Linked DNA regions of Homo sapiens. The protein of the gene in region 4 purifies or fractionates together with the protein of the main gene of each other region. This does not show direct contact. Each region holds a gene or a part of one and is shown on either strand. Other genes may lie near its edges. The genes, in order: RIMS1, IARS1, TARS3, SDCBP, ARHGEF2, LARS1 and ANKRD28.

Region 1 (4,299 bases), on a different chromosome or scaffold from region 4:
CCCAAAAGAGAAAATTCTACCTTTTCTATTAGTACAGATTTTAAGATTTTTTTTTTCTAAAATTATTCACTACCTTCTATCTGGAAGAAAATACATTTTTACATAGGGATTTCGAGGACGTCCATCTACTCTAGCAGGTAGATCTGTTGCTTGCAGAACATTTACAATCAGCTGGTGTCCCACTTTATCATACCACAACTTCACCTAGGAGCAATGAGGAAAGGAATTATTTGTAAAAATCATGAGGCATTACAATTTTACATAAAACAAAATTCAAGTTATATTTAAATGAGGAAATTTTGAATTACAATATAATGCAATTACAGATATTTCTAAAAACACACCAATTTGAAAGCATAAACACACAGAACTTTACTTTTCTCTTTGAGTACTTTAAACATAACCTACAACTGGCAGGCCTTCAGTGTTACTGTATATTCTCACATATCATTTTATAAAATAAAACTAATAATAATTTTTCCAAAAAACTAAGGGAAGAGGGAGACATAAAATCATTATTATTGTTCTTAAATGTTAAAAATAAGAGTTTGAAGATTATATGTGTCTAAATTATTATAGCGTGACTAAATGCTTTCTCTGGTGTCACAGGTAGTTAAAATTAAAAAAAACAAGAGTTTGGATATTAGGAATAAGAAATACAAAGAATTAGAAGAGATCATAAAACATATTTACTGTGGGCCTATTTTATACAGGCACCGTTTAGTATTTCCTGGTATTTTTTCTCACTTATTTTTTTATTTTTTAGAGACATGGTCTCACTCTGTCACAGGCTGGAATGCAGTGGCATGATCATAGCTCACTGCAGCCTCAAACTGCTGGAACCAACAATTCTCCCAGTTCAGCCTCCCAGGTAGATGGAACCACAGGTGTACATCATCATGTCTGGCCAGTTTTTTAAATTTTTTGTGGAATCGGGGGTCTTGCTATGTTGCCAGGCTAGTCTTGAACTCTTCAGTCTCTCAAAGTGCTGGGATTAAAGGTGTGAGCCACTGCACCAAGCCGTCATTTAATTTTTAGAATTAAACTATTACAGGTTATTTTTCATGAGAGAAGGAGGAAAAAACTAAGGATACAATACACAAATGACATCTTCAAACTACAAGAAGGCCAAATGATATTTCTATTAACCAAGATTTCATGACAGTAGACCAAAGAATAATGGGGAAGTAACGTACTAAAATCCTATTGTCAAACTCACAAGAATTGGAATTTTATCAGTCATTATTACAGTATCTGCCCTGGCAGTGGTGATGACACTTTAACAATGTTAACTTTAATTTTTTTCCTTTAATTTAGAAGTTACTTTTCATTTTATGTTTAAGTAAGCATATGCTGTTAATAGGTATATGTTAGAACATATTTGAGAGTCATTAAAACAAAATAAACTAATTTAACATAGGATTAGCTTTTCATGGTAAGGAACAGATTAAGAATTCAAACCTGGATCTGTGTAAATCCATTTCTCTGATTCCCAATTGATACCTAAGATGGGGTTTCACAGAACCAGAATGGGTTTCCATCCTCTTTCAAAATATGTGGAGAATATGAGAGATTTACACATACACTGAAGAAAAAGATGGCCGGCAGATAAACCCAAAGGGTATTACAAAGATATTCAATATACTAAAAATAAAAGTTAAAACCATAAAAGCCCTTGAGCAATAAGCTTACATATATCTTCTCTGTCTCATTAAAATCAAGAGAAAACCACAAAGGCAAACCACAGAAATCCACACATTATCAGAGGAGCAAAAGGTCATTATTTGTGTAACAATTTGAAACAAATAGTTTGAAGTCCTTAAATTATAATATCAACATCACATTTTCCATCATAATCTACAAATATATGGTTCTTCATTATCCTTAACCCTAGTTTCTTCACTCCAGGTTTCCCCAGATCACATAATAAGGCAATAGTGAGAAAATGGTAGCTTTTTCAGAGAGCTTTCAGTGGCAACGAAGAGTTTTGCCAAATGCCTTAGGAAGTTAAAAAGAATATTCCAAATTTAGGCTCTTCAGGCTCTAGGCTCATAAGGTTATTACATAAATGGGGTATGAACTCCTAATATTATGTGTAAACAATTATTTACCTTAGAAACTTTTACATAGCACACAAAAAATATGAACTCTTTATTTACTTATGTTACCATTCATCAATTAATGTTCAGAGTATCTGGCACACTGCAAGCACTCAGTAAGTATTTCTGAATAAATATGTGAATAAAGGAATAATAAAAAATGCATGAAAAACTAATGAAGTAGATTATGGTGTTAAATGACTATGTATTTATTGCAGGCTTCAAGGAAAGGCGAACATATTTAAAGACAGACTCAGACAGTGTATGCAAATACTAACAGCCTCCAACATGTACAAAAAATACATACAGAAAGTTGCCCTGGTAAGACTTGTGGGGCATCTTTTAGAGCTCCAGGACTTGTTGGAGAAATAACAGAAATGGAAGGCCTTTCCATCTTCTGAGATTCAAAGGAACTTGAACCTAAAATGAGAAAAAAAAGTAAGTAATATTTGTAAGTGTAGGAAATATTTTTAATAAAATGTTAAATGCATCCTTTATTTGTATAAAACCATAATTACTATCACTGATAACAGAACCTACTTTTAATGGGATAGATTGTCTTTAGTTGTCTATTTAAAAAATATTAAGAATGATATAACGAAGTATTATGCTTATTTCAACTGGAAAGAATTGATCTACATTTCTGGAGTGCATGGTATTGCACAGGCTCTTGCATGACTTCACATATGGGTAAAGGTCTGCTTCAGAGATAAGGAAGATAGTGCCTGTTAACACTAATTATCTTGGCTAATGGATCATCTATTATAAACTGTCCTTACTGAGAAATTAAAATGAATGCATACATAATATAATTTATAAGCCACATCTAAGCCAAGACTTTGCCACTGTTTTAAAATCAGATATACCATCTATCTTAGGTTTTTTTTTTTTTTTTTTTTGAGACAGAGTTTCGCTCTTGTTGCCCAGGCTGGAGTGCAATGGCATGATCTTGGCTCACCGCAACCTCCACCTCGCAGGTTCAAGCAATTCTTCTGCCTCAGCCTCCTGAGTAGCTGGGATTACAGGCATGCACCAACACGTCCGGCTAATTTTGTATTTTTAGTAGAGACGGGGTTTCTCCATGTTGAGGCTGGTCTCGAACTCCTGACCTCAGGTGATCCGCCCACCTCGGCCTCCCCATCTATCTTAGTTTTGATCTTATAAATGAGTATCCTGAACCTCTGAAAATGCTGCTTCAAGTAATTCACCACTAGTGATTTGTTTCAACTTCACATGGAGGAGGCTGGGTCTCCTCTCAGCCACTTGGTGGAGTTCTTCACTGTTCCAAGTATACCCTGACACAGAGAGCAATACAGAGTGTTTATAGAAGGCTATTGATCCAGCAAGTACAACCTTGAACTCACCACCATTCAAACTTAGCCAATGCTTCATTGAGAAATACTGTTTATGAAGCATTGCCTGAGTATGTGCAATCCGCACATTTTTTTCTATAAGTACAAATTAATTCTCATGTCATCCTTTTGTGCCCTCCGAAAACATTTAGTGATAAAAAACAGCTATATAAAATTGTTACTATGTGTCTTTTCCCAGGTATATTTAAAATACATTTTCCTTAAGTCTCAGAACAGGAACACTGTTATTTCTAATAATGCTTGTTTGTAATATTATGGCAATCAGTGTATTTTTTAATCATATCAATAATATAAATTATGCAATTAGTCCCACTTCCCTCTTTGTATTGGTCACCAGAAAGCTCAAAGCCAAAACTGGGTCCACCTCTAGCAGAACATGATGGTATGCATTTTATATGATAACCTAGTGTCTGTTTCCTTGTTTATCCTACTTTCATATTTTCTTCTCCCTTCTAATCACTATCACTGGTTTTCCCCTAAATCACCTTTTATTTTCTATTTCTTTAACTTGGGTTCTGTAAGAACACCTGGGGAATCAAGCCCAAGTATTAACTTAATTCCCATCCATTGCAAAGTAAATATTTGGGTCACTTCTGCATTATCATTGAAAACTTAATTGTCTATATTTTATTGCACACAATATCATCTTCTGTCATACAGAAACGACTTAAATTCCCATATAGATAATTCTTTCAACCCTCTGGTTTCACAATCTCTTGACCTATTATGTTTAATGAAGTTTACTCCACCCATTCACTTCCAAAATCAATCCACACACTTTGTTATTCAGTAATACAATTATTTGTTAAAGTGTCTACCTAGTTTCT
Region 2 (4,299 bases), on a different chromosome or scaffold from region 4:
TTTCTGTGTGGGTACTCAGCACAAATTCTATTTTAAAATATTTCATTTTAAAATTTTCATTTATGTTTATTTTTATTCTTAATGACTAGAGGTAATAAAGTAAAGGAAAAATGAGACTTCCTTATAATAGCAAAATGTGGGAAATAATGCCCATTGGGAGGAAGTTTCAGATGAGGGGAAGAATGGGATCTGGTGGCAGAGTACCTCGGTCAAGCCCAGTGTGGCTGTCACTAGCTTTGATCCTGGGCACCTGTGGTCTCTAGAACCCACAGCTTCCTCGTGTGTTAAAAAAAGGACAACAAAATCTACATGAAAGGACTGATGTACAGATTAAATAAGATCTATAAGCAAAAGTATTTCATAAAGTGCTAAGTTTAGTAAATGCTATTTTATTACTAGTAATATCACTAGTAGCATTATGTTACTAGCAGTAGCACAATCTGAAAGTCCTCCCCTTCCTCCTCCTCCATCAGGCTTAGCTGTCACACACTCCTTCTTGAGAAACAGTGGAGACAAAGCTCCACCTGTCACTACAACAAAGTTGACCGCTCTCACGCACTCCTTCTTAAGAAACAGTGGAGACAAAGTTCCACCCGTCACTACAACAAAGTTGACCTACCTTGCCAGGACAAGCCCATTCACAATTACGTTCTTGAAAGGCGGTTGTCCAAAGAGGGCCGTGGCCAGCACCAGCAGGGTATAAAACCTGAAAAAAAACCCCAAACAGTTCAATAAAAATAGAAATGAAGTCCAAGCATAAGAAAGAAACTGTATTTATTCATTGAATTTCTATTTTTGATAAGTCACACTTCTTGAGAATCACTTAAAGCAATGATTCTTAATCCTGGTTACTGGAGACCAATCAAATTACTGTCTAAGATTTGAAAGAAGCATTGAAATAAACGTCTGGAATGATTTACTGACCATTTCTCTGTTACCAGAGCTCCCAGGAAGTCTGTGTGGAGAGCCACATGGCAGCACTGGGTGGCCTCTCAGGACCACCCAGAAGCACCTAGCTGAAGATGAAGGATGGGTTTTGAATTTGGCACAAGATCATATGGAAAAGACAATTTGATGACAAAAGATGCAAAATGCACTCTCACCCAAAAGTGATAAGGCAGACTAGAAAATGCTTTTATTCTGTAAAATGTTATGTACCTCATTTATGTGCTACCTAGCTTGTTTCCCAAATGAACTCATATCCCTGACCACTGTCCTGGGGGTGATGCTTTCCTGCCTCTCTTACCTAGTCCTGCACTCTGAGAACATCAAGGGACATGAGCTGAGGAGACCAGACCCCATAGTTAACATAAACACTGATCCAGATATCCCTCCCACTTCTAAAGGAGAGTTGGGAGGAGCCCTGGTGCCCAGGAGAGGTAGCCCAGGCCTCAGGAATGGAGAAGGAGGCAGGCACCAAGGACACGGGATCCACATGAGGACTGTTACCAGCTAACAGACTTTGCTACTCCTCAAAGGAACAAGCTCATTGGTAAGGCATCTACCCCTTTCTAAAAACAGAATTTGTGCTGGGTAGCTGTTCCTATAGACAAAAAGGACTGGAATCTGAAGACAGCACATTCCAGAACATGAAGACTTGAATTCAATGATTACCCAAAGCTGTCAAAGAGAGAAAATGACACCAACAATTCCTTTAACACACCCCTGCAGAAACATTACTGTGAATGTATAATTAAAACCTGGGCTGGGCGCAATGGCTCACGCCTGTAATCCCAGCACTTTGGGAGGCTGAGACGGGTGGGTCACTTGAGGTCAGGAGTTCGAGACCAGCCTGGCCAACATGGTGAAACCCAGTCTCTACTAAAACTACAAAAATTAGCTGGGCATGGTGGTGCATGCCTGTAGACCCAGCTACTTAGGAGGGTGAGGCAGAAGAATTGCTTGAACCCAGGAGGCGAAGGGTGCAGTGAGCCGAGATCACACCCCTGCACTCCAGCCTGGGCAGCAGAGTGCAAGATTCTGTCTCAAAAAAAAAAAAAAAAGTAAATAAAGCCTGGGCCAGCAAAGCCAATCCATGGAAAGAAAGTAATTCACCTTCTTCCAATTAAGGAACTGTTTTACATAAGGCACCAGATAAAAATCAATGCCCAAATCCTCTCTCATATGTATATTTTTTAAAAATCTGGATTTTTTTAGAATGTTGATTTATAAGGCTAGCCTCAATATCTGAGCACATTACCAACTATCCCTCAAATTTCTAGCACCCAAACTACTGTCTTTTATGCAAATACTCAAACATTTGAGTAAATGATCTGACGTAAGCTAAGAACACATAACTTTTTTTATCATTTTAACATCCAGTGTAACACATATATTCCAAAATGCCAGTGAGATCATTGAAATTGTAAAACTACAGCCCTATTGTAGTGGGAGAGTCCTACTCAAAAGGCACTTTAATGTCCGTGCTTGGTGGTGGAGGGGAGAGGGCAGGAATGTAGCCTGTCTTATTTGCCACAATCTCTCCATCACCCAGTAGATAAATGGCAGTGACTTAGTAAAATACTCCCTAAATAAAATAAAATCAATAAAACACGTGATGAAAGAACAAGGAGGCATACCATCCTCTGGTTTGGTCGATGCCCTCGGCAATGAAATCTGCAGGAAAAGCATCCTCAAACTCCCTCTTGTTTTCAAACGGGTAATGAACCTGAGCATAGGGCATGCTGCCACTCTCAAACCAACAGTCAAACACTTCAGAGATGCGGTGCAAGGATCCCTTCCCACAGCGTGAAGGAATGGTCAGGTGGTCAACACTAACAAACAGAAAAGTAGTCATTTCTATTAACTGTAAGCATAACAGAACTTGCAGTTTAATTGCTAATAGGAAACACAAAACCCTGACAAGATATTATACACATTTGCAAACAGAAATATCAGCAATTCTCAAAGGCTTTCAGAGAGCACCATGAATCCTCCATCTGAAAGGTTATGCACCATTCACCTCACATTTCACAAGGACAGAGGCCACAATACTGCAATATGACATGAGTCATCAGCAAAGTAATTCAGCAAGCTAGTCACTTCCATGTGTGGCTCTGTAATCTGCTAGAGACCAGGTCTTAATAGGAGAATCGTAAAACTGAAGTGAATCGAACATTTAGAAACTGACCTCTCTCTGTGGAGATCTGAGATCTTTGCTCCTGACAGTTCTTCAAGTTCCGCCACTGACCCAATGCATACCACCTGTCAAAAACAAAGTTCAATAGCAGGAGCTCCTTAGAGCCAAACAGAGCATACTGAGTTAATTTATATAGCATGCATGTTTACTTTGAGAGACTGATGATTTTCTTTTTCCTTTTTTTTTGAGATAGGGTCTCACTACCATTGCCCAGGCTGGAGTGCAGTGGCACAATCACAGCTCACTGCAGCCTCAGCTTCCTGGGCTCAGGTGATCCTCTCACCTAAGCCTCCCAAGTACCTGGGGCTACAGGCAGGCACCACCTCACCCAGCTAATTTTTTGTATTTTTAGTAAAGACAGGGTTTCGCCATGCTGCCCAGGCTGGTCTCAAACTCTTGGACTCGAGCTATCAGCCACCCTCAGCCTCCCAAAGTGCTGCGATTACAGGCGTGAGCCACCCAGCCTGAGACTGATGATTTAAAGGCACATTAACACACCAATCTGGGCCGAAGGATAGTATTTGCTAATGTGGCTTCTCTCTCATGAAAGACACAGCCTACTCTTAGTCTCTGAAGAGGCCAGGGTTGCCACTGCTCCTCTGTTTCCACCCCAGTATCAGAGGGAGTCCCTACCTAGAGAGAATCTTAAACATTCATAGCCATACTCTCAATGGATATTAAGGGTTTATTATGTGCAAATTGTCAAAGTAACTGGCATAAGTGAAACATCTTAGATTATTTCTCTAAGGCATTTTAGTTTCCTCCTGGCACCTGAATCTGGCTCATTAATCTAGAATCTTCCCAAGAAAAAGCTAGAGCTAAATTATAGTCATACAGTGCTTAATGGTGGGAATACATTCTGAGAAATGCATTGTTAGGGTGATTTCCTTAGGCAAACATCACAGACCTAGATGGGATGGCCTAAAACACAGCTAGGCTATATGGTGGAGCCTATTACTTCTAAGCTACAAACCTGTACAGCATGTGGCTGTACTGAATTCTGCAGGCAACTGTAACACAATGGTAAATGCTCTAGTTTTCATATGGTTTGTCCCCAGCAAATCTCAAGTTGAAATTTAATCCCCAGTGTGGCAGTATTGACAGATGGAGCCCGATGGGAGGCATCTGGGTCACAGGGTGGATCCCTCGTGAAGAGACCA
Region 3 (4,299 bases), on a different chromosome or scaffold from region 4:
TACTCTCCGTCTCTGAATTTGGTTCCTCCAGGCACTTCATATCAGTGGAATCATGACAATATTTATCCTTTTGTGACTGGCTTGTTTCACTCAGCAAAAAGTCCTCAAGATTCATCCATATTTTAATATTTTAATGTGTGTCAGAATGTCCTTCCTTTATAAGGTTGGATAATATTCCATTGTACGGATAGACCACATTTTGTTGATCCATTCATCCACCTGTAAACACTTGGGTTGCTTCTGCCTTTTGGCTACTATTGTGAACAGCGCTGCTGTGAACATGGGTGTGTAAAGTTCTGTTTGAGTCTCTGCTTTACTTCTTTTGGGAATATACTTAGAAGGGGAATTTCTGGATCCTATGGCAATTCTGTTTTTAAGTTTTCGAGAACTCGCCATACCGTTTGGTGCAGTGGCTACACCATTTTACAGTCCCACCAGTGATGCACAGGGGGTTCAGTTTTTCCACATCCTTGCCAACACTTGTTTTGTTTTTTTTTTAATCATGGACATCCTAATGGTTGTGAAGTGGTATCTCATTGGGGTTTTGTTTTGACTTGCATTTCTCTGATGACGTACTAATGGTGAGCATCTTAATGTGCTTATTGGCCATTTGTGTATTTTCTTGAAGAAATGTCTTTGGAGAAATGTCTGTTGAGCTCTTTTGCCCATTTTTTAATTAGGTTTTTTTGTATTTGAGTTATAAGAGTTCTTGATATATTCTGGATATCCATTTCTTAACAGATATGTGATTTGCAAATATTTAATTCTGTGGGTTGCCTTTTTTGCAGCTACTTTTAAGAACTAAACACAATTAATCTTTGTTAAGGAAAATGATTTGTTGTGAATATATAGATACGAAACAGTTAAATCATGCAGATACGGGTTTTTCTCCCAACAACTAGCTTCTTTAAGTAGTTATTTAATATAAAGTGCCTTGTATACCCCGATAGTAGTGATGGAAGCAGAAAAGAAAGGAAAAGGAAAAAAACCCTTAGTTTTATAAATATATCATCATTACGATAAACTTTGCTTTTGTTTTTATACAAATTAATAATATAGCTGTGTCCTTGTCAGAATTTTATTGATTAATGTTAAAATTAGATCTTCTAGAACAGTACTGTCCAATAGAAACATAATGGAATCCACTAGTCTGAGCTACATGTGTAACCTATAATTTTATGGCAGCTACATTTTAAAAGTAAAAGTTGCAATTAATTTTAACAAATTTTTAACCCAATATATAAAAAGTATAATTTCAATGGTAGCCAGTATAAAGAATGATTAACGAATGATTTTCTTCTTCTTTTTGCAACATTATACTTCCAAAGTCCAGTGTGTTTTATACTCACTGCACATCTTCTTTCAAATTAGTGGCATTTGAGGCCAGGTGTGGTGGCTCACACCTGTAATCCCAGTACTTTGGGAGGCCAAGGCAGGCGGATCACTAGAGGTCAGGAGTTTGAGACCAGCCTGGCCAACATAGTGAAACCCTGTCTCTACTAAAAATACAAAAATTAGCACATAGTAAAAATACAAAAATACAATACAGGCATGGTGGTACATGCCTGTAATTCCAGCTACACGGGAGGCTGAGGCAGAATCGCTTGAACCAGGGAGACGGACGTTGCAGTGAGCCAAGATGGTGGCACTGCACCCTAGCCTGGGTGAGGGAGTGAGACTCTGTCTCAAAAACAACAACAACAACCACAAATTAATGGCATTTGAAATGCCCAGTAGCCACGTGGCTTGTGGCCTCCATGCTGCACGGTGTCGCTCAAGGCTGTGAGCTCTTTGTATCCCTCGTGTCTCAGCACCTAGAACATCAGTAGATGACCTTTCAATGTTTCTTGAAGAAAAGTAGAGTTGTTTTCTTCATTTCAACATTGTGTGTAATAATGTGTAAATATGTTTTTCTTCGTAGTACAATAAATTTAAATGCCGCATTCTGAATGAGAAAGTTAACACTGCAACTACCACCGTGTACAGGTTTGTGTCCACACATGGTAAACGCTGCTCAGTGGTAAACTTGAAGGTGTTAGCAGTAGAGGCCGAGTTTGTTTTCTGGTTGGAGATCGATTTTTCAAGTTGTGTAGTTGATAATCTACCGTAGTTACAATCTTCAAAATGTTTTCACTAAAGAGAAATGATTATTTTCCCCTTTTTAGTAATCAGGACAGTACTGAGACCCATATTTTGTTTCCTGGGTGTTAGCTATAACAGGATTTTTCTCCATGTGAGTGATACTGTTGGGAAAGGAGTTTCTATTCTGTCCTTCCACGTTCTTATTAATGTGGCAGTGGGGGCCATTACAAGCCATCTCCTCGGCAGTGATTCTCTGCCTCATACTTACTGTCCAGAGTGCAAGTGTAGAAGAGTCTGCCCCATTGTCCAGAGTCCAAGTGTACAGTCTTCATGCATTAGCAGGATACTCATGATGAGACCAAAAGAAAATACTGGGAAACAAAGGCAGGATCAAATGTAAGAGGAGACAAGTGAAGTTAATACCAGAATCACTTAGCTCTGTTCATTTAACCTCAGGTTCCTGAGCACCTTTTTCTTTATTCGTGTGTATACGCCTTATATGTCATTGCTGTTCCCCTTTCCGTGTGTTCCGGCCATCTGGGTGCTGCTAGGACTATCACAGTACCGCCTTAGAAGACCTGGTATTTATTTAATTATAACCACAGATATTCTCCCTCATGGTACTTACTTTCGACAGTCAAGGACTTATGGTTCTCTGGTTTAATTGTACTGTAAGTAAAATCATATCCCCTTTGTGCAAAGCTATGCACGGTGCATTTCTTAAAGCTTAAAAATAAATGAAAATGTAGAAAACAGGCCAAGTTTTAAATTTCTGGCTTCTAATGCTTGAGCTCTTGGGTTTGAGAACCTTACTTACGTCAACATTGACACTTTTTGTAGTTTTTCAATTTGAATGGCTTGTATTTAATTTTTGAAAAAAAAATAAAGCTTTTCTTTTATGGCTTTCTTTTTTTTTTTTTTTTTAATTTTTTGAGATGGAGTCTTGCACTGTTGCCCGGGCTGGAGTGCGATGGCGCGACCTCGGTTCACCGCAACCTCTGCCTCCCAGGTTCAAGTGATTCTCCTGCCTCAGCCTCCCAAGTAGCTGGGATTACAGGCGCCCACCACCACGCCCAGCTAATTTTTTATATTTTTTATTAGAGACAGGGTTTCACTATGTTGGCGAGGCTGGTCTCGAATGCCTGACCTCGTGATCCACCCGCCTCGGCCTCCCAAAGTGCTGGGATTACAGGTGTGAGCCACCACACCCGGCCCTGTGACTTTCTATGTAAAGATTAGAGTATTGAAGCCTTTCATGCTAATTTGGCATTCCTTCCCTTCATCTGAGTGTTGTTTACAAGCTCTCTCCCTAGAGAACAATACACAAAGACTGACCATTGAGAGAGATGACATTTTCGTGTTTGCCACTCTGTAAGCCAGTCCCTTTTTGTATTCATTGTAATTTTTAAGTTTTTAATCAGAGAATTGCCTAGTTTCTTTCAGAAGATGTTCTGTGGTTTTTGAATCTAGAGGGCAGAGTGGACTCTGAGGCTAGATGAATCACCTCTCTCCTTCACCCTAAATTAAAAATGGCATTGCTACATATAAATAAGTGAAGCTCTACCTAAAACATAGGATATTATGGCTTATAATGAATAGTCCAGAACACTGTAACTGTGCCTGAGCATGTCCTAAATATTTCATTATAGGTGCGGTCCATTAATTGACCTTTGCAAAGGTCCACATGTAAGACACACTGGAAAAATTAAAACCATCAAAATTTTTAAGGTAAGGATTGATTTTTTTTTAATACAGTAAACTTAAGGTGCACTAGCTATTAAAGGATTTTAATCATATCTTATTCAATCATATCTTTTGTAGTCTGAACATCATGATATTTTAAAATATTTCATTCTTATTTGATGAAAACTAATAAAATCATTTAGAATTTTGATAATTAGAACACTATAGGTGGCTTTTGTTTATCATTTTACCTTATTGTAAGTGTTATAACATTTCTTTTTCATACGATATTTTATTTTATTTTTTATTTTTCTGAGACAGAGTCTTGCTCTGTTGTCCAGGCTGGAGTGCAGTGGTGTGATCTTGGCTCACTGCAATCTCCGCCTCCTGGGTTCAAGCGATTCTCCTGCCCCAGCCTCCTGAGGAGCTGTGATTACAGGCCTGCACCACCCCACCCGGCTAATTTTTCTATTTTTAGTCGAGATGGGGTTTTACCACATTGGTCAGGCTGGTCTCGAACTCCTAACCTCAGGT
Region 4 (4,299 bases):
TTGCTAAATTGTGTATAATCAAGTAAGATTAAAGTTTATTTGTTAGACTAAAAAGATGGGCATATTAAATCCACATGCACAGGCTTATAAAGAACACACAATGAAATAAATACAGAAAACTCAAATACTGTTAACCAATAACTACACTCACATGGATATTTTTACTTATGTAAAATCTCAATCAGAAGTTGAACAAAATATAAATAGGTAAGTATAAAAGAAGAATAAGCCTGGTAAAATATAAGTGCATCTACTTCTACAATCCTAAGCTAGGTCACATATTTCTATCACACATCTGTTACATTGTAGAATGATAAGCAAGAACTAGGTAGCACCCCATAAATGAACAAATGCCCTTTGGCCAAGTGAACAAATCCACTGCAACTATTACCTACAGTGGGGCCAAGGGGCCTATGAAAAGTATCTTTTCTCTTTAGGACAGAGGAAAGAACACAAGAGCAATCCTGGCGGAAGGAGCAGCAGTATACTCTATTCCCTGAAGATTCTGGAGAAAGGGCAGCAAAGTCAGAGCATCCCAACTAAGCACGCAGATGTATTTTGAGTGACATACAAGTGAGCAAGGCCATCATCGATGGCCTCAGCCCCCTGGGTGGGCAGGCAGGGCGGGGGCCTCCTGCCAAGATCAGCCTCCTCCATTTACAGCAGTGCACCACACTTATAATTTTCTATGTGGAAAGGCTGGATGCACTAAGCTAGAGATGTATGACTGAAACCGAATCCAATAAGGTAATGGCTAAAACTATAAATTGGGGTAAAGACTCAACATGTCCTTCACAATTATAAATGGTTCCTCAGAGAGTAACCCTGTTTCATATCTTCAGTATGTTAAGGTGAGAGGTAATTATAAAGTAAAGGCTGCCCTAATTAGAAAGAATATTCCATCTTTTTTTACTCAGAAAATGACATATTAAATTCAAATGTGAAGGATGTTAATAACAAATCTGCAAAAACCATCTCACCAGTTAAATACTGATCATTTGGTTTAAAAATGCACACACATCCGGGAGGCAGAGGTTGCAGTGAGTCAAGATCACACCACTGCACTGCAGCCTGGCGACAGAACGAGACTCCGTCTCAAAAAAAAAAAAAAAAAGGCACACTGACATTGACTCTCATTGGAAAGTTTTTTCTTAACCTTCACATCTGCTCTATTTAATTGCCACAATTCTATTATACAAACTATAATATATGTAGGCCAGTGAAATGTATTCCAGTTAGAATATTCAGAAAAGAAACATCTTTCAAAGTAATGTGGTCAGAAGTCCCAACTATGCCTCTGCAAAATAGAACATCCCCAATTGAAAACATTTAAGTTAGTAGATTTAAAATATTCTCAACTACAGATGCACTATTATAATTAAAGCATTTCCATTTCAAATTATTTTAACATTAATCACTTATTATGTAAGAGATTTAGACAAATTCAAATAGGTATTTAAAATACTTACATTATCTATTGATTTAAGCCTGAGTCCAATTTTTCCATCTTGATCCTTACACAAAATGACTTCACGAATCCCTTGCTTAATTTCTGCTCTACGAATTCCAACATCATTACCAGTTACAGGAGCCACCATATAGTTTATACTGGAAGGTCTTGCTACCAACTGCTGACAAAACCATATACAATGTGTCAATATCTAGAAACACTCTCCTTGAAAAAAACAATGATAATTAACTGGAACTTACTCAGTTTTGGCTTTCCAAAAAGCAATCCACAAATAATTTCCTTCCGATAAAGTTTGATGTCTATGAAAATGGCACTGGCTCTACTACTAATTCTTCACTAACTTATTCCCACACATATCATCTCTAATAGATTCAATGACTCTCTGTTGCCCTTTGAATTCACTGGCATTTGTTTCACCGGTATACTGGCTTGTCTTCATCTCAAATTTATTATCTTTGAACTTAAAGGCCATATACTTTTGAAACATTTTCCAGACGGTTCATGATGTCACGATCTTTGACAATCTACTTATCCTTTCAGAATTTCCATAAAAGGGGCAAATTTCTTACCTCACTGTTACTGACAGGATTAAATGAAAAGTGCATGTTGTATGGGCACTGGCACACATAAGACAGTCAACTATTATGTCTCTTCCCCTCTAGTAACCATCTATGGATTAACAAATCATATGCACAAACCAGAATGCCCCAGAATACCTACATTAGGGACCTGTGTCATATACCATGTTTCAAGTTTCTAATTCTTTCCAGTTTTCCTAATCAAAACTGGTTTATTTTAAGTGGAACCTTTCCCCAACCAAAAAGAAAATGGAATAATATTAGGCCACTAAAAAAAGGAAATCCTGCCATTTGGACAACATGAATAAATGTAGAGAATATTATTCCAAGTGAAATAAACCAGACACAGAAAGACAAGTACTGTCTGGGTCCCACTTATATGTGGAATCTGAAAAGAGTCAAACTCACAGAAATAGAGAGTAGAAGGAAGGTTGTCAGGGGCTGGGGTTGGGCAGGGCAAAGAATGAGAAAAATGTTGGTCAAAGTGTACAAACTTTCTCAGTTATCATATGAGTACGTTCTGGAGATCTAATGTACAGCATAGTAACTATAATTAATAATACTGTACGGTATACTTGAAAGTTGCTAAGAGTACATCTTAAGTGTTCTCACCACACACCAAAAGAAATGTAACCATGTGAGATGACAGATACGTTAATAACCCTGACTGTGGTAATCATTTCACAATGTGTGTTTGTGTGTGTTTATCAATACATCAAGTTGTATTGATATATACAGTTGAATATATACAATTTATATTTGTTAATTATACCTCAATAAAGCTGGGGAGAGGAAGATCCAGATGGAACATCAAGAGAAGAAGAATAAAATATGTGAAATGAAAAATTCACTAGATATGAAGAGATAACAGAAATCTCCAGCAACAAATTAATTTAAAATAGAACAGAAGAAAAATAAAAGGCGGCGCACTGAAGAACCCTGGAGATGCAGACACAAAAATGAAGGTTATATCACCCTTCTAGGTATTTGGGCAAAGGGATCTAAGCATCCATGTAGTGAACAAAGGAAGTTCTAAATTTTAACTACAGCCTCATGATCAGTTACTAAAATAAGAATCAGAGCAGCTATGACTCTGTTCTTCTTTGTATTTGTATATTTTCTGTAAATACAGCAATTAATCTTTCTGTTCCTCTATACCTCTTTTTACCTTTATGTATGAATTGTTGGTAGTGGTTAACTTTACACTTTTGCCTTTAAATTAAAAATATTCTGTTGGGAATGTGAATACTTAGAAGGGTAATTAGTATCATATAGTAATCAATACCATGATGACTGCCCAGAGATGGCCACATTAACTGGTATCATCCCTTTCTAGAGAAAGGGTGAGAGCAACTTCATTTATATTGAAGGGTACATGGCTTCATTTTGTACACCCCTGAGTTAAAAATGATTTTTATATTTTTAAAGATTGTAAATAAACAAATAACAATAAGAATATGTGATAAAGATCATAAGTGACCATGAAAGCCTAAGGTATTTATTATGGAGCCCTTTATAAAGTTTGAACTTTGATTTTATGAAGAAATTCATCTTTCAAGGAGAAACTATAAAGTTGTTGTTGTTGTCACATGAAATTCAAATGTTTGTACAAGTGTGTGGATATACTGAGTAGTCAAAGGAGTAGGTGGTAACAGATATTAAACTACTGTTTGTCAGCTCCAAATCCACCCTTCTAGACTCTACTTGGTGATGCTGGGCCTAACTGTGCAAATTATAATTTCGTTTGTCAGTGACTGGAATGACAAGCACCTCATTCCTTCCTGTGTGCCTCCTGCTCCTGTCAGTACTGTGTAAGCCTGGCCCTTTACACTGGCAGCAGCAGTTGGTTCCAGTCTGCAACTTTTACTGACACTCCCAGAACCAGCCTCATTACAACCCCTCAGAGGCACTAGTAGTGTCCCCTCATCCAAGGTCTGAGTCCCAGCTCCGTGGGGCTCTTCCTCAAGCTTCTAGGTTCTGCTAACTCCAATCTCTCTCCTGTGTTATCCCAGTCCTAGGAGAAGCAGCTAGCTATCTGCAATTACATCTATGTCCATTTATGTTTTTTTCAATTTTTCAACCTCTTAAAATACCTACTATTATTTGTTTTCCCAACTGCATCACCACTAACACAAGCAAGTTTTCAATAAATATTTGGTAAATACATAAATGCCAGGTACTGTATATGCATTGGGATATGGCAACAAGACAGACACAGATTTAACTACAATTATAATAAGTGGTACAAAG
Region 5 (4,299 bases), on a different chromosome or scaffold from region 4:
CTAGATTGGGGTTCCCTCCTCATCCTCACAACTCTAAATTGAACAGTGAGGAAAGTAGGGAGGCTTCACTGGTTTTCTTTTCTTTCTTTTTTTTTTTTTTTTTGAGCGGTAGCAAGCTTTATTGTGAAGAGCAAAATGACAAAGCTCCCACAGCGTAGAAGGGGACCCGAGCGGGTTGCCCATCACTGGTCCTTTCTGGGGGTTCCTTCCCCAAGTTTCATAGGGATTTACAGGCTAGAGCTTTTGTCCGCTATTCAGTAGCAGGTCACAATACCTTCAATCCTGCTCTAATCAGAGGCATCTCTGCCATAACTTCAGGAGGAATTGAGGGAGAGGGGGCAGCAGGAGCCCTCTGTGTACTGGGGAAGGAAAGAATTCCTGGCTTATACTCCCTAAAGACAGGACTACACTCAGATGTGGATGAAGGGCAGGAATTCTAACCCCTGCCCCTCAACACACACATCCCTGCTACATTCCCTCTTTCTCACTAGAAATTTGAGATGAAGGGTCCTAATCACATCTTCTGCTTGAAACAGCAGAGATTTCAGGCTCCACCCATAGTCAATAGAAAGAAAGGGGCAAGGGGACTGTGAAGTCCTGAATGCCCAGCTCTGCGCAGGAAGACAGGCAGAGCCAGCTGCAAGGCTGGCAGCTTTCCACCCAGTTCCTCTGTCACCCCCCACCCCACCCCCTCCACACATACAACATTCCTGCTCCTTCTCCAATCAGTTCCCCTAACCCTTAGCAGCTGTTCGGGGAGCAAGGGGGGTGCCTGGTGGATGACAGCTGCAAGAGGAGCCAGCACAGCCTCCCCTCCCCCACATTCCCAGATAGTCCGGCTTATGCCATATTCCAACAGCCACCACCCCTCAGAGTGAGGACAGGGAGCAAGGGATCAAGCAACTGGCCCTGGCATTTGGGCCCAGCTGGGGATCAGAGAGAAGAGTGACCCTCATGGATCCAGGCAGAAAAAACAGATGAAAAGATCAGGGTCAGTGGGCACCGAGTCTGGGTGACTCTCAGGGTCCAAACAACTTACTTGGGCAGATGAGGGCTTCCTTGGCTGTGATGCTCTTGTTACAGGCATAGCACATGGTCATGCCTGAAACTGAAATGGTGGTGAAGAGGTGCCCATTGGTATAGCGGGCATCCTTGGCTTCCTTCATCTTCTCCTTTTCCCGGGTCTGTGGAAGGGATGAGAGGGAGAGGAAGTGAGGCTGGAAAATGCCAGGGTGCCTGGAGTCCAGAGAGACAGGCTGGGGGCAGAGGCAAGGAAAAAATGCCAGCCTGAGGATGCTGGAAAGACACCAGTTCCTAAAGCAGAGCCTGCAACTGGGTGTCAGAGGCAGCTGTCCGGGAGTGACCAGGCCAGGCTCTGGGGCAGCCAGCCCGGATGGGTTCTGGGTCCCTGACCTACCTGGCCCCTACGGCTGGGCTGCCTCCTGTTGCCACTCATCTCCCTGGCTCTAGGTCTCTGCGTCCTCACTCCACCTTCCCAGCCCTAGCTCTGCTCACCCCCGAGCTGCTGTACTCTCTTCTCTGTGCTAGGGGGAAGATGCGCAGAGAGGAGGGGAGAGCAGGCGAAGCGGAGGGTGCCAGCTCACCAGCGCTTTCCAATCTATGGGAGTTAGCTCCTCTTATAACCATGACAACCAGTGTTGGATCTGCTGTCTCTGTGGCAGTCACAGTGGGGGGGGCAGGAGATCCCCTTATTAGATTGGCTGAAGGGGGCAGAATGCCTCCCCTGCCACCCCCAACCCAGGGGTCAGGATCCCAGACCTCTAACTCTTTTCACCAACCCTCAGCCACGGCACACAGGGCCTGTCTGGGAGGCAGCATGTCCCCTACTAACCTTGAGGCAAAGGCAGCTAGCTGCCTTTGGGTCACTCTTCCACTCTGGGATCTTTAAGTAAGGAAGCTCAGCCAGCCATCTTGGTTGCTTCCAGCGGAAAATCTCTCCTGCAGTCTAACTTTTATCCCTCTCATACTACTTTCCAGAGTTAAAACCTAGGAGAGTTTCCTCTATTGCTCCTTACCCAACTGGTCTCTCCCATCCTAGGAAGTCCTTTCTGACATCTACCCTCCATCCTTCAGTGTTGATCTCCGCAGATGGCGCACACCTTCCTCGGAGCCTCTGAGCCGCATTTTCCATCTCTGCTGTCTCCCATTTCCCCCAGTGCCCCTGCCTCTGCAAGTCAAGTCATTCTCCCTGACCTCCAATCTGTCCCTCTTCAAGCCCCTGTGATTCCCAAAAAGCCTGAGAAGGTGAGAAGAGGGGGATATCACTCTTCCCACTATTCTAGGACCTTCCTTAGTTGTGACTCTGATCTCTGGATTTTCCCTCCGCTCTTGGAGCAGGACTAGAAGCTGAGAAGACCACTCCCTCCAAGGTTTCCCAGGCTCTCAGAAATCAAAAATCAGGATCCAGATGGCTGAGGGTAGAAGCCCCAAGTCAGAGGACCTGGACTGGGGACAGAGGATTACAGTTCAGCGGGAAGCACTCAGCCCGGACTCTAGGAGACCAGTACTGACTCAGCCGAGGCCACGAGGCCACGCCAGCAGCTGAGAGGTGGAGGAGGGGAAGAGATGCACGGGCCTGGTGCTTGGGGCAGAAAATGGTAGAAAGAAAGGGGAAGTGTGGAGGGGCTGAGTCAACAGTGCAGGGACAGAGGGCATGGGGCTGCAGTGCCTGGGCCCAAGATCCTTCTCTTTCCTGCCTCTCTTCCCAAGCTCCAGGTTTGCCTGATGATGTCCAGAGCCCAGAGGTCTTGGGGTCAATCCCTTCTCCCCTCATGCATCCTCCCCATCCCCAATCATCCATTTTTCGCATCCTCCTCCTGTCTCCTGCTCTCTCTATGTCCTCCCTTCTCTTCTCAGGGTCTCCCTCCTAGGCTCCTCCCGCTCTGCCTTCCCTTTCTCAGCCTTGCTTCTCCGCCACTGTTCTCCTCTCCCGCCCACAGCCTCTCCTCCCCTCCTCCTCACGCAGGCCAACTGCTCCTCTACCTAGGCTTATTCAGGAAGCTGAGCTGCCTCTAGCCTCTAACTCAAACCTCTAAAATGTTCTGGCCTCCTTTTTTCTATTCTGGCACCTACCTACCCGGACCACTAGAAAATGCTCCCTTTGGTCTAACCTCCACCTATCTTGCACCAAATTATACCTCTTTAGAAGTTCAAATTCAGGCTGGGTGCAGTGGCTCACACCTGCAATCCCAGCACTTTGGGAGGTCGAGGCGGGTGGATTACCTGAGGTCAGGAGTTCGAGACCAGCCTGACCAACATGGTGAAACCCCATCTCTACTAAAAATACAAAAAATTAGCTGGGCGTAGTGGCAGGCACCTGTAATCCCAGCTACTTGGGAGGCTGAGGCAGGAGAATTGCTTGAACCGGGGAGGTTGGAGGTTGTGGTGGGTTGAGATTGGGCCACTGCACTCCAGCCTGGGCCACAGAGTGAGACTATGTCTCAAAAAAAAAAAAAGAAGTTCAAATTCACCTTTGAATAATAACCTCACAGGACCTCAAACACCAAGTCCAAAAATCTCTTCCCACTGCCATATACTCTCCCTTTTCTCCTCCTCTCCTGCCCTCCCAGCCTTCTATATAACTCAAACCAAAAGTTTGAGCATGTATTACATTTGAATTAAAAGCAAGAGGCCGGTGAGGTGGCTCACACCTGTAATCCCAGCACTTTGCGGGGCTGAGGTGGGAGGATCGCTTGAGGCCAGGAGTTTGAGAACAACCTGAGCAACACAGCGAGACCCATCTCTATAAAAAAAAAAAATATATACATATATATATATACACACATAAGTAAAAGCAAGCAAGCTGAAAATAGTATTAAAAAAAACAACATGGCTGGACCAGGGTCACTCCAGAATGGGCAGTGCTGCAGCTCTGCCCCAGTGCTGCTACGAGTACTCTCTTCCACACCTGACCTCTGTCCTTTGCCCTCCACCCTCCCCCTGTGGCATCCACAAACACTCATCTGTCTGACCAGCTCAGATGGAGTGGCAAAGGGAGGGAGAAGACTGGGGCAGCCAGAGAACAGGGTCTCTAGTGGCCCTTCCTCTCTCTGGCATCAATGCTCCACAGACAGCCCTGGTACTCTGGGCCCTGCCTCCTCCACCTCCCAACACTCACCCTCTCTCGAAGTGACCCCTGCTCTAGGTGGGCCAGCAGCGGGCAGCAGCCACAGCAGCAGCACATCCCAGCATGGGCACTGCCCAGCAGCAAGCGACCCTGGCACTGCCTAGTGCTATTGTCCCGGAGGTTGCCTGTGCCCGCCCCAGGGCTCAGGCTTC
Region 6 (4,299 bases), on a different chromosome or scaffold from region 4:
ATTTAAAATAAAATACTTAATTAGAAACAACTTTCTTCCATCTCCGTATTTCACAAAACAATTTTACTTAAATTCCAAACCTATATTTTTTTTACTTGAGTGTCTTCATTATTACTAGGACCACTTTTTGAGTGCTCTAACAGTTTTCTAGAGCACATGACTTTTCCTTTTGCCTAAGTTGTCTGAGACCAGCTTATTTACGATCTATATATAAAGTTGTGAGTGGGGCACAAAGATTGGATGGGGAGAACGTCACAGATATATAAAAGCTATTGGTACTGTTCTAGTTCCTGGATTGGGTAGAAAATTCAGGGATGTTCATTTTATTATAAATTGGGAGGAAAAAAACACGGCAAGACATGGAACAATCATAATATATCATGAACCAAATCATAATATATCATGAACCATAATATATCATGAACCAATATATCAGTGCAGCAATTCTAAACCAAAGATTATAATTAATCCAATTCTGCAAATCAAAAGGGAGGGGGGAAAAAAGGCAACAATTCAGAGTACTCCATAACATGAGAGGCTTGGAAAGCATTTGAATATAAGGTCTCTTAAAAATAATTTGCAGTAGAATAGCCAGATATACAGTTTTTTAATGTATAATTGATTATATGTAAATTAAGAATTGATGAAATAAGATGACATATCACTTTTTTTCCTGCAACTTTTATACTCACCCATTTTTCTTCTCTCCAAAAATATTTTCGACTAATATATTTAACAAAGATACTAAACACAGAAGATGAAATTTATAAAAAGGTTTATTATAAAATAAAAGAGCTGGATTATGGTTTAACTACAGTTAACTGGTTATTACAATCCCTGGCCCTCTTACCTCAAGCGAATTAGTCAGATAGACTATATTCTCCATAAGCACAGCCTTTTCATCAAATTCTAATTGCAAATCCAGAATACGAGGCCCCATCTTCTCCAGATTTTCCTAATAGCCAAAATGGTATGGAAAAACAAAATCACAGTAAGAATATGTTGGAAAACATACTTCCTCCAAAGTAATCATTCTTCTCTCAACTGATAAAATCTTCAGATTTCAGGAGTTAAAGGAAAGGCCTTGGACTCATGATTTCCTTTACCTACATTTGCTTGTTAATGAAATTTACTAGCTCCAAATAATTATCTTTTAAAGTATTATAAGATTATGGCAGCACTGAAAAGATGGGAAGGCACAAGGTTTTCAGATTTATAAAATAAATACGGTTTTATGATTGTTTATTTAGACTGACTTAACATGCAAGCCCAAAGAATTCACTTTACAGGGAATCAGCCAAATGTGTGAAAATATCCCTTTAAGTTACCCAAAAAAAACAAAATTTTAATTTTCTGAGATACCACCTTCTTAAAGCTGTTTCAGAGAATAGTGAATTAATAATATCCAAACAAAAAATCCCCAAAGATATTTCTGCAAAGTTTAAAGAAAAAAAACTCATACTACATGAGTACTCAAACATGGCATGTAAAAAATAATTTCTTATTCTTAATTTTCTTGGGTAGTCAATATTTGCTGTGCAAAATAGAATCCTAGAGATCCAAGTACATATGCAGATATAACTACCTAGAACATGTTATACTTAATGAAAGTGACCTGATATTATTCCTGCTACTCACTGTTTTCGCTTACTATGCAAGTTCTATTTCTTTTTCTCATGGAAGTGCTAGAAAGTCATTTTCTTATTCCCAGATGTATTAATCCCTTCCAAAATTTGCAAAACCACTAATTTGCCTGGCAAATCACCAACATAATTTTAAAAATATATTACCACTCAAACGGTCTGATGCTGGTTCTTCAAATTTAAATGAGATCCTAAAGAAGCCAACTCTTGAATCTAATATCATTTTATACACACACACACACGCACACACACACTCTATATATATATACATATACACATAACTACTTTTCAAATAGGTTTCCCTGGATTCTTTTAAAACATGTCATCAAAATTAATTGCCTTTGCAACCATCAATGGAATATTTTGTTGGATCCACATGTTGACAGAGATTTGGCATTATGACCAATGACACTAGCCACTGGGGAACCAACGAACTATGAACATACCAGCACTTACATTACAACTTGATTAGTGTAGGTCAACACAGGATTCTAAATTACTTCTGAAACTTAAAATACCCTGAGGATCAAATAGTGACTTTGGTCTAAGAGAATTAAAAACCTTTTCCAAGAATACTAATCTATTATAATATTGAAGAAGTTAAGAGGTCTGGTCTCCATCAGGCATCTGCAGCCAAGAAGACACAAGAATTAAAGGACAGTACAAGAATAACTACAATATGCTTAGTAGGCTGGAAGATACTAATTTGTATTTTTAAACAACATTTACTGAGCCTACTTCTTGACTAGTGCTACTTAAGTGTGTTAGGTACACTATTTTATTTACTCCTCACAGCACTCCTAAAAAGTTTGGTTCTATAGTATCCTCATTTTATGGATGAAAAATCCTGTAGCCCAGAAAATTTAAGTGATTTGTCCAAGGTCTCAAAACTAAGGAGTGACTGATACACAGAATTTCAACCAAGATTTTTCTGGCCCCATAGCCTGCGATCTTAAGCAATATAAGCCTTCTTTCGGTTTCTTTTTGTCAAGAAATCCAGTAATACATCAGCGACGTATATGAAGAAAACTAAGGGTCTAACCCAATAATTCTCAATGGTAAGAAGTGGAAGGTGATTCTGCCCCCAGCGGACATTTGGCAATGTCTGGAGATATTTTTCATTGTCATAACTAGCAGGAAAGGTAGTTCTACTGGCTTCTAATGAGTAGAAGCCAGGGATGCCATTACATATCCTACAGTGCACAAGAAAGTGCCCCACAAGAACTATCTAGCCCAAAATACCAACAGAGCTATGCTGAGACACCCTGGTCTAACCACTATAACCAATGTTTACCCTGTTAAGCTATACCTATACAAATGTTGAATCCTGGTTCCAGGAATAGGGTCTAGGAAATGCAAGCCTCTATAAGCCTAATGTAAGCCAAAAGAGTTTGAAAGAAGGGAAGGTAGAATATGAAGGGAATAGTTCAGTGCAGCCATTCTAAACCAATTTTTCTCCCACAATAATATTTTTCACATACTCAGCAATTCCACAAGTAAACCCAAAATCTGATAGATCATTTCTCTCAGTCATTGATTGAAAAGTGCTATTTTAGCAGATTTCTGGCAGGAGACTATGTCCAAGGCTTTTCCCCATCCTTCTATTGTCCCATCTAACCATTGCTCATGTGGTCACAGCTGCATAAGGTCCACAGCTTACCTTAATCATGGCAACAAATGGCATGACTTTCTTCATGTATTTCTTCAGTTCTGGCATACTGCCTAGTTCACTAGCAATGACTTTGTTGTCAGGCAGTTTTCCGTTATTGGCCTAAGAAAAGGAAGGAGGGAGAGTAATGTAGAAAAAAAAGTCTCAAGAATAAGGCAGAACAGTAGATGTGACCAGGCATAGAATGGTGGCCTCTATCAATCCTTAGAGAACAGCAGAAAAGTGTCCAGCCCTAGCATCACGGGGAAGTGAAAGCTCAATGAACAATGCAGAAGGAACTCTCCTATTCTCTATAAATTAACAACACATACTTTTTAGTTTAGAAGAGAAAAAGAAGTGATTTGTGTTGAATATTTCTCCTGTTCAGAAACTAAATGGTCTCATAAAAACTTGTTTTCAAATTTCTAAAAGCATTTTATTAGTCATATTAAAATAAAAAATTACACAACTATCATACAAGTTTATATAATGTCTGCTTTTGGACACTTGGAAGAAACTGTTACCACAATTGTGAAAAGAATCCCTAGCTACTGACCTGTTAAAAACAGAATCATTTCTATCTACTCAAAAATAAATGTCCATATCATATATCACTGATGAGTACAATCCAAGTGTGCTTTAAATGAATCTAAATTCATTTCTTTCTACAAATATTAACGGTCCCCTCAATAGAGTGAGAAATAAAGCAACTGGTCTTTTCAAAGTTTTGGGCAACTTGTTTTCTCTTTATTGTAAAAGAAGGGTTGGGAATGAATCTAAATGAAAAGGAACATATAATACAATTTCAAATAATCTATTTTCAATTCTAACTTTTACTAAAGTACATGGGAAAAAAATATTCTACTTGTTAATATATTCCTCTGAAACACACGAAAAAGAAAAAGGGTGGGAAACACTCCTTTGCCTTATGTCACCAAAATGGTGCCACATTCAACATAAGAACACTCTTCGTGATTATAAATGAACATTCTTTTCATTCCTGTGGAT
Region 7 (4,299 bases), on a different chromosome or scaffold from region 4:
GAGTACAGACTGAGAAAAGGGAACAGTGGGGCCCCTTTGTGACCTCCAGAAATCATTACTGGGTGATATCAAGCAGACAATCTCATAACTTTCTATCATCATTTATGAAAGATAGATAGGATGGTAAACTGGGTCCTCCTGAGTTTCAGAGGCTAGTCTGAGGATGTTTAGAGCTTCATAAAAATGAACACATTTTTTAAAGGAATAATAAGTATTCTTAAGTTCTGTGATTGAATGACTATATAAACTGAAATTGTGAACTTTTAGTATCTACAGCCAGTGTTTTTCTAAAACTTGGCCATCATTTCATTTTAATTTTAAGAGGTTGTTTTCTGTTCTGTTGGCATGCTTCCACTTTTCTTTCCAGCTGTACAATAATTACTAGTTAAAGTAAAAACCATTTTACATATTCTACTTTCAGAATGCCAAATTATAAAACGGGCTTTTGGCTATAAATATGGTATTAATTTTAGGCTGTCTATATAGTCGCTTATTGCATATAGCCAACACACATTAAATTCCTTCCAGCTCAAATTCAGCATCACCACAATTTTGCTACAGGCTGAAAATCAGACACATTTGTTATGATCTTTAAATGGCAACCAGGCATGCAGTTCTTGCAAAATTCTGTCTCTTGCACAAAACGTGCTTAGAGTCTAAATTTAGCAGTGATAGAGTAGGAACTCACTTTAGGGAAAATGTTCTACATATAGATCTGATAACAAACACTGTAATAGAAAGCAACTCTCCAAAGGACAGTTACAGCAGTACATTTACAACTAAATGCTCTTCCTGAGGAAAAATATCTCACTGTGTGATTTTTCCAATGGTTAATCTTCAGGGATATATTTTTTTAAAAACCAAGCAGTAAGTCTTTGCTTCTGAACAGTTTTATCTCACTGACTTTTTTACAGAAACACAACTCACAATTGTAGATATTTTCCCACTATATTAGATATTTTGGGTTTTCCTTATACTTGTAAAATGTCAAGTCACATTACAGAAACAAATCAAACATCAATGGCAAAATACAGTATCTTCTTTGTTCTAGTATGAGTACTAGTCTCTGGCCACTTCACTACACTCATTTCTACTTGCCTTAGCGAGTAGAAATGGGAAAAAGAGAAGTTAAACCCCAAAGGTTTTATAGTTTTCAAAACTGTTTTGGTTAAGGATTTAAGGTAGTAAAAAACAAAGAGACTAAACTAGCTTGTTCAATGAGCAACAGATTTAACTATTCAAGTTTTTATGGTGCTATCAGTACTCAGCTGAAGGATAACCAACAGTATAACAGGACAAACCTCAAGAACCCAAAATGTTCTAACGGCAAAAGAATACAACTCCCAACTTTGGCATAAGGACTAATATGAAAATCAAAATATTGTATCTCAGAAATACTTGTGGAAACATTTAATGAAGTTATAATTTTACAAGATTCAGCTTTTTCCTCTTTTGCTTTAACTTGATAACTTTGTCAGAACAGCTCCCAGTGAAAGAACTATGAAACAGCATATTATAGAAAGATAGGAAATCTCAACTTCCTGGTAAGGCAGTCTGATTTTACAACAGATATTATACTTATTTATTTTTAGCAAATGGGTATTTATATAAAGAGACAACTTATATTTTCTCTGCATTTTGAGGGAAGGTTATTAGAATTGTGAACTACAGCTTTGTAGATCTGCTGTCATAATTAACATTAATCTTGAAGCTACACTGAAATTGAAAACAAATTTTAAAAACCTCTAATTTCTCTACTAAAGCCTGAAGCTTGAACTTTGACAACACTGATGCTTGCACTGTATATAATGTACTTGAGTTTTCTAAGATGATCAAATCTAAAAATATCTCAACATGCTTCATTGCATAAATTATTTTAATTAGTGGCATTTCATAAGCCAAACTGCATTTTTAACATCTATAACTTCAAAGTAGCTTTATGCTTCCCTACGTGACCTTTTATGAGTCTACCTATAAAAGCGATGACTGTGACTGTGAGCCTGTAGGAGGCCAAAGAAAATCTCTTTTAACCATGTAGCAGAGTTAACCCATCAAAGTTTCTAATTCTAAGACCTGCTAGGGATTTATTCCTTTAAAACATTGAACATGGATATTACTGGTAATATAAGAATGTTATCTTGCAATGTGCTCAGAAAACATACATAGATTTCAGTTTAGAATGTGATACATCTCACTGTTTCTCCTACTTTTGGTTATTTTTCCCCTAATATGATTGTATTTAGAAAGTAAAAGAACATGGCTGGGTGCAATGGCTCATGCCTGTAATCCTAGCACTTGGGGAGTCTGATGTGGGAGGATTGCTTAAGCCCAGTTGTTCAAGACCAGCCTGGGCAACATAGTGGGACTCTTAAAAAAAAAAAAATAGTAAAAGAACACAATCAAAATACAAGCACACTATATAAAAGCAATGGAAACATTCTAAAAACCTCCTAAAAATGCAAAATATTTGTGGAAATAAGGATCTAAGAAAAACTTCAGGCTACATGGTGGCTCATGCCTGTAATCCCAACACTTTGGGAGGCTGAGGTGGGAGGATCACTTGATGCCAGGAGTTCAAGACCAGCCTGGGCAACATAGCAAGATCCTACCAAAACTAAAAAAGAAAAGAAAAGAAAAGAAAAACCTCAAAAATACTTCATGGCTTATCTCAGAACACCTTTGACAACTAGTGTCTTGGCTTTAGCATGACAAAGGACAGGAGTGAGCCTACGTACTAAGTATTATTAGTACGTGAGCCTATACAGTAGATTATTCCCAAGGTTTTTGCTAATTTTAAACTTAAAATTTGCCTTATAAATATGTCATTCTTTTATCTCTGTTCACTACACAATGATATGCATTTGTGTTTGTATACTTAACCATTGTAGCAAGCCCAGTGAAGTGCCGTATATCCATGATTGTCTGCTGTGGCTGGATTTGCATCCATAGATGCTGCTGACTGCAAAAGGGCTCCAAGAACACCAATGTGTCCACAGGCAGCAGACAGGTGTATAGGCGTCCGGCCCCTGCTATCCCGAAGTAAGCACTTAGCACCATGTTGAAGTAATGCATCTACACATTCTTCATGGCCTGTAACTGCCTGAAAGAAAATAATTTAAAGGTAGTCAAACATATTATGCTAAACATTACATGCCAATTTCAGCTAATTAAAAACTTTAAAGACCATACTCTCCATATCCTTCCATCAATTAAAGCCATTTATCATTTTATGAGTAATTCTGTATTTTTATTGGAAGTGGTTTAAAAATTCAGTTAAAGCAAGAACCCTTCTAAAATGCAAATAGTATGAAAACAGGAAGAGAGAAACTTGGTATTCAATGAAAATAATGATATTTCAAAGGTGAAAAAAGATTAAAGTGTATAAGAAAATAAGTGAGATAATGGAAAAAGTCAAATTGACATTAATTCTACTAAAAGTTTTAGAGTTTTAAAATTTTGTTCTAACATTGTTCTCTAGATTAAGTTGTACTCTGTAATTGTTCAAAATTAGCATTTAAAAACTAAGATACTGAAAGAAATGGTAAAGACTATTTGACGAACATTTAATGAAGAAAAAATAAACATAACCTAGTTCAGTTCTAGGTAATATGAGGTCATAAAAGCTTTTTGAAAGGAAAGAGCATATTTCTGCTTACCCCTCTATGCAACGCTGTCCTTCCCCACTTATCTTTGGCATCTACATTTGCTCCTTTGTTCAGCAATGAGTAAACACAGTCTGTGTGCCCGTTGAGAACAGATAGCATCAGAGGCGTCCTGAGCAACAACAGGAATAGGTTCAGTGCTGTCACTTAAGACTGTACTCTGGTTTTCGAAATACGCCCTTCTGTGATGCAACAATTATTTATCGAAACTTACTGTCCATTTCCATCTTGAATATCCACTGCATTCTGTGGTTCTGCATTTCCTATTAATAGCCGTAAGCATTCTGAATGACCATTTGTTGCTGTAAAGTGAAATTTAAACATTTCAGTAATTACATATAATGATAAAATAGAAAATGTCCATCTAAAAGCACATCTTCTAGAATTTACTTTTGGGATAGTTGCACTGAATTTAATATGCAAGAATGAAAACTATAGGTAAAAAGAAGGTTTCTACGGCCTTTGACTGTTAAAGCTGGAATAAATGTGAATTCCTCACAGTAAAACATGACAGGCAGACCGCCTACCCAGCACCCATGCCCTATCATCTGCCTCTAAAAGAATGCTCATTTTATTTAGCTCTCTGGCAATGTGGTCAGGAAGAGTGCCTTGACTCCAGCAAAGGGATGATACCATG

The links.
Region 1: the proteins of SDCBP (region 4) and RIMS1 purify together in Homo sapiens (co-immunoprecipitation; one large-scale study listed by IntAct). This does not show direct contact.
Region 2: the proteins of SDCBP (region 4) and IARS1 purify together in Homo sapiens (affinity purification with mass spectrometry; 3 studies listed by BioGRID and IntAct, with this or other methods). This does not show direct contact.
Region 3: the proteins of SDCBP (region 4) and TARS3 purify together in Homo sapiens (affinity purification with mass spectrometry; 4 studies listed by BioGRID and IntAct, with this or other methods). This does not show direct contact.
Region 5: the proteins of SDCBP (region 4) and ARHGEF2 purify together in Homo sapiens (co-immunoprecipitation; one large-scale study listed by IntAct). This does not show direct contact.
Region 6: the proteins of SDCBP (region 4) and LARS1 purify together in Homo sapiens (affinity purification with mass spectrometry; 4 studies listed by BioGRID and IntAct, with this or other methods). This does not show direct contact.
Region 7: the proteins of SDCBP (region 4) and ANKRD28 purify together in Homo sapiens (affinity purification with mass spectrometry; 4 studies listed by BioGRID and IntAct, with this or other methods). This does not show direct contact.

The regions. Positions count from the first base shown.
Region 1 is NC_000006.12:72,246,235-72,250,533, reverse strand, and holds part of RIMS1 (regulating synaptic membrane exocytosis protein 1), read right to left. Parts: intron 2,520-4,299; coding exon 2,407-2,519; intron 205-2,406; coding exon 74-204; intron 1-73. UniProt on the Homo sapiens protein: Rab effector involved in exocytosis. May act as scaffold protein that regulates neurotransmitter release at the active zone.
Region 2 is NC_000009.12:92,262,350-92,266,648, forward strand, and holds part of IARS1 (isoleucine--tRNA ligase, cytoplasmic), read right to left. Parts: intron 3,205-4,299; coding exon 3,131-3,204; intron 2,775-3,130; coding exon 2,580-2,774; intron 707-2,579; coding exon 620-706; intron 1-619. UniProt on the Homo sapiens protein: Catalyzes the specific attachment of an amino acid to its cognate tRNA in a 2 step reaction: the amino acid (AA) is first activated by ATP to form AA-AMP and then transferred to the acceptor end of the tRNA.
Region 3 is NC_000015.10:101,703,370-101,707,668, reverse strand, and holds part of TARS3 (threonine--tRNA ligase 2, cytoplasmic), read left to right. Parts: intron 1-1,921; coding exon 1,922-1,986; intron 1,987-3,731; coding exon 3,732-3,810; intron 3,811-4,299. UniProt on the Homo sapiens protein: Catalyzes the attachment of threonine to tRNA(Thr) in a two-step reaction: threonine is first activated by ATP to form Thr-AMP and then transferred to the acceptor end of tRNA(Thr).
Region 4 is NC_000008.11:58,573,232-58,577,530, reverse strand, and holds part of SDCBP (syntenin-1), read right to left. Parts: intron 1,632-4,299; coding exon 1,470-1,631; intron 1-1,469. UniProt on the Homo sapiens protein: Multifunctional adapter protein involved in diverse array of functions including trafficking of transmembrane proteins, neuro and immunomodulation, exosome biogenesis, and tumorigenesis.
Region 5 is NC_000001.11:155,968,117-155,972,415, forward strand, and holds part of ARHGEF2 (rho guanine nucleotide exchange factor 2), read right to left. Parts: intron 1,185-4,299; coding exon 1,040-1,184; intron 1-1,039. UniProt on the Homo sapiens protein: Activates Rho-GTPases by promoting the exchange of GDP for GTP.
Region 6 is NC_000005.10:146,123,132-146,127,430, forward strand, and holds part of LARS1 (leucine--tRNA ligase, cytoplasmic), read right to left. Parts: intron 3,415-4,299; coding exon 3,304-3,414; intron 956-3,303; coding exon 851-955; intron 1-850. UniProt on the Homo sapiens protein: Aminoacyl-tRNA synthetase that catalyzes the specific attachment of leucine to its cognate tRNA (tRNA(Leu)).
Region 7 is NC_000003.12:15,682,346-15,686,644, forward strand, and holds part of ANKRD28 (serine/threonine-protein phosphatase 6 regulatory ankyrin repeat subunit A), read right to left. Parts: intron 3,965-4,299; coding exon 3,877-3,964; intron 3,775-3,876; coding exon 3,657-3,774; intron 3,101-3,656; coding exon 2,881-3,100; intron 1-2,880. UniProt on the Homo sapiens protein: Regulatory subunit of protein phosphatase 6 (PP6) that may be involved in the recognition of phosphoprotein substrates. Involved in the PP6-mediated dephosphorylation of NFKBIE opposing its degradation in response to TNF-alpha.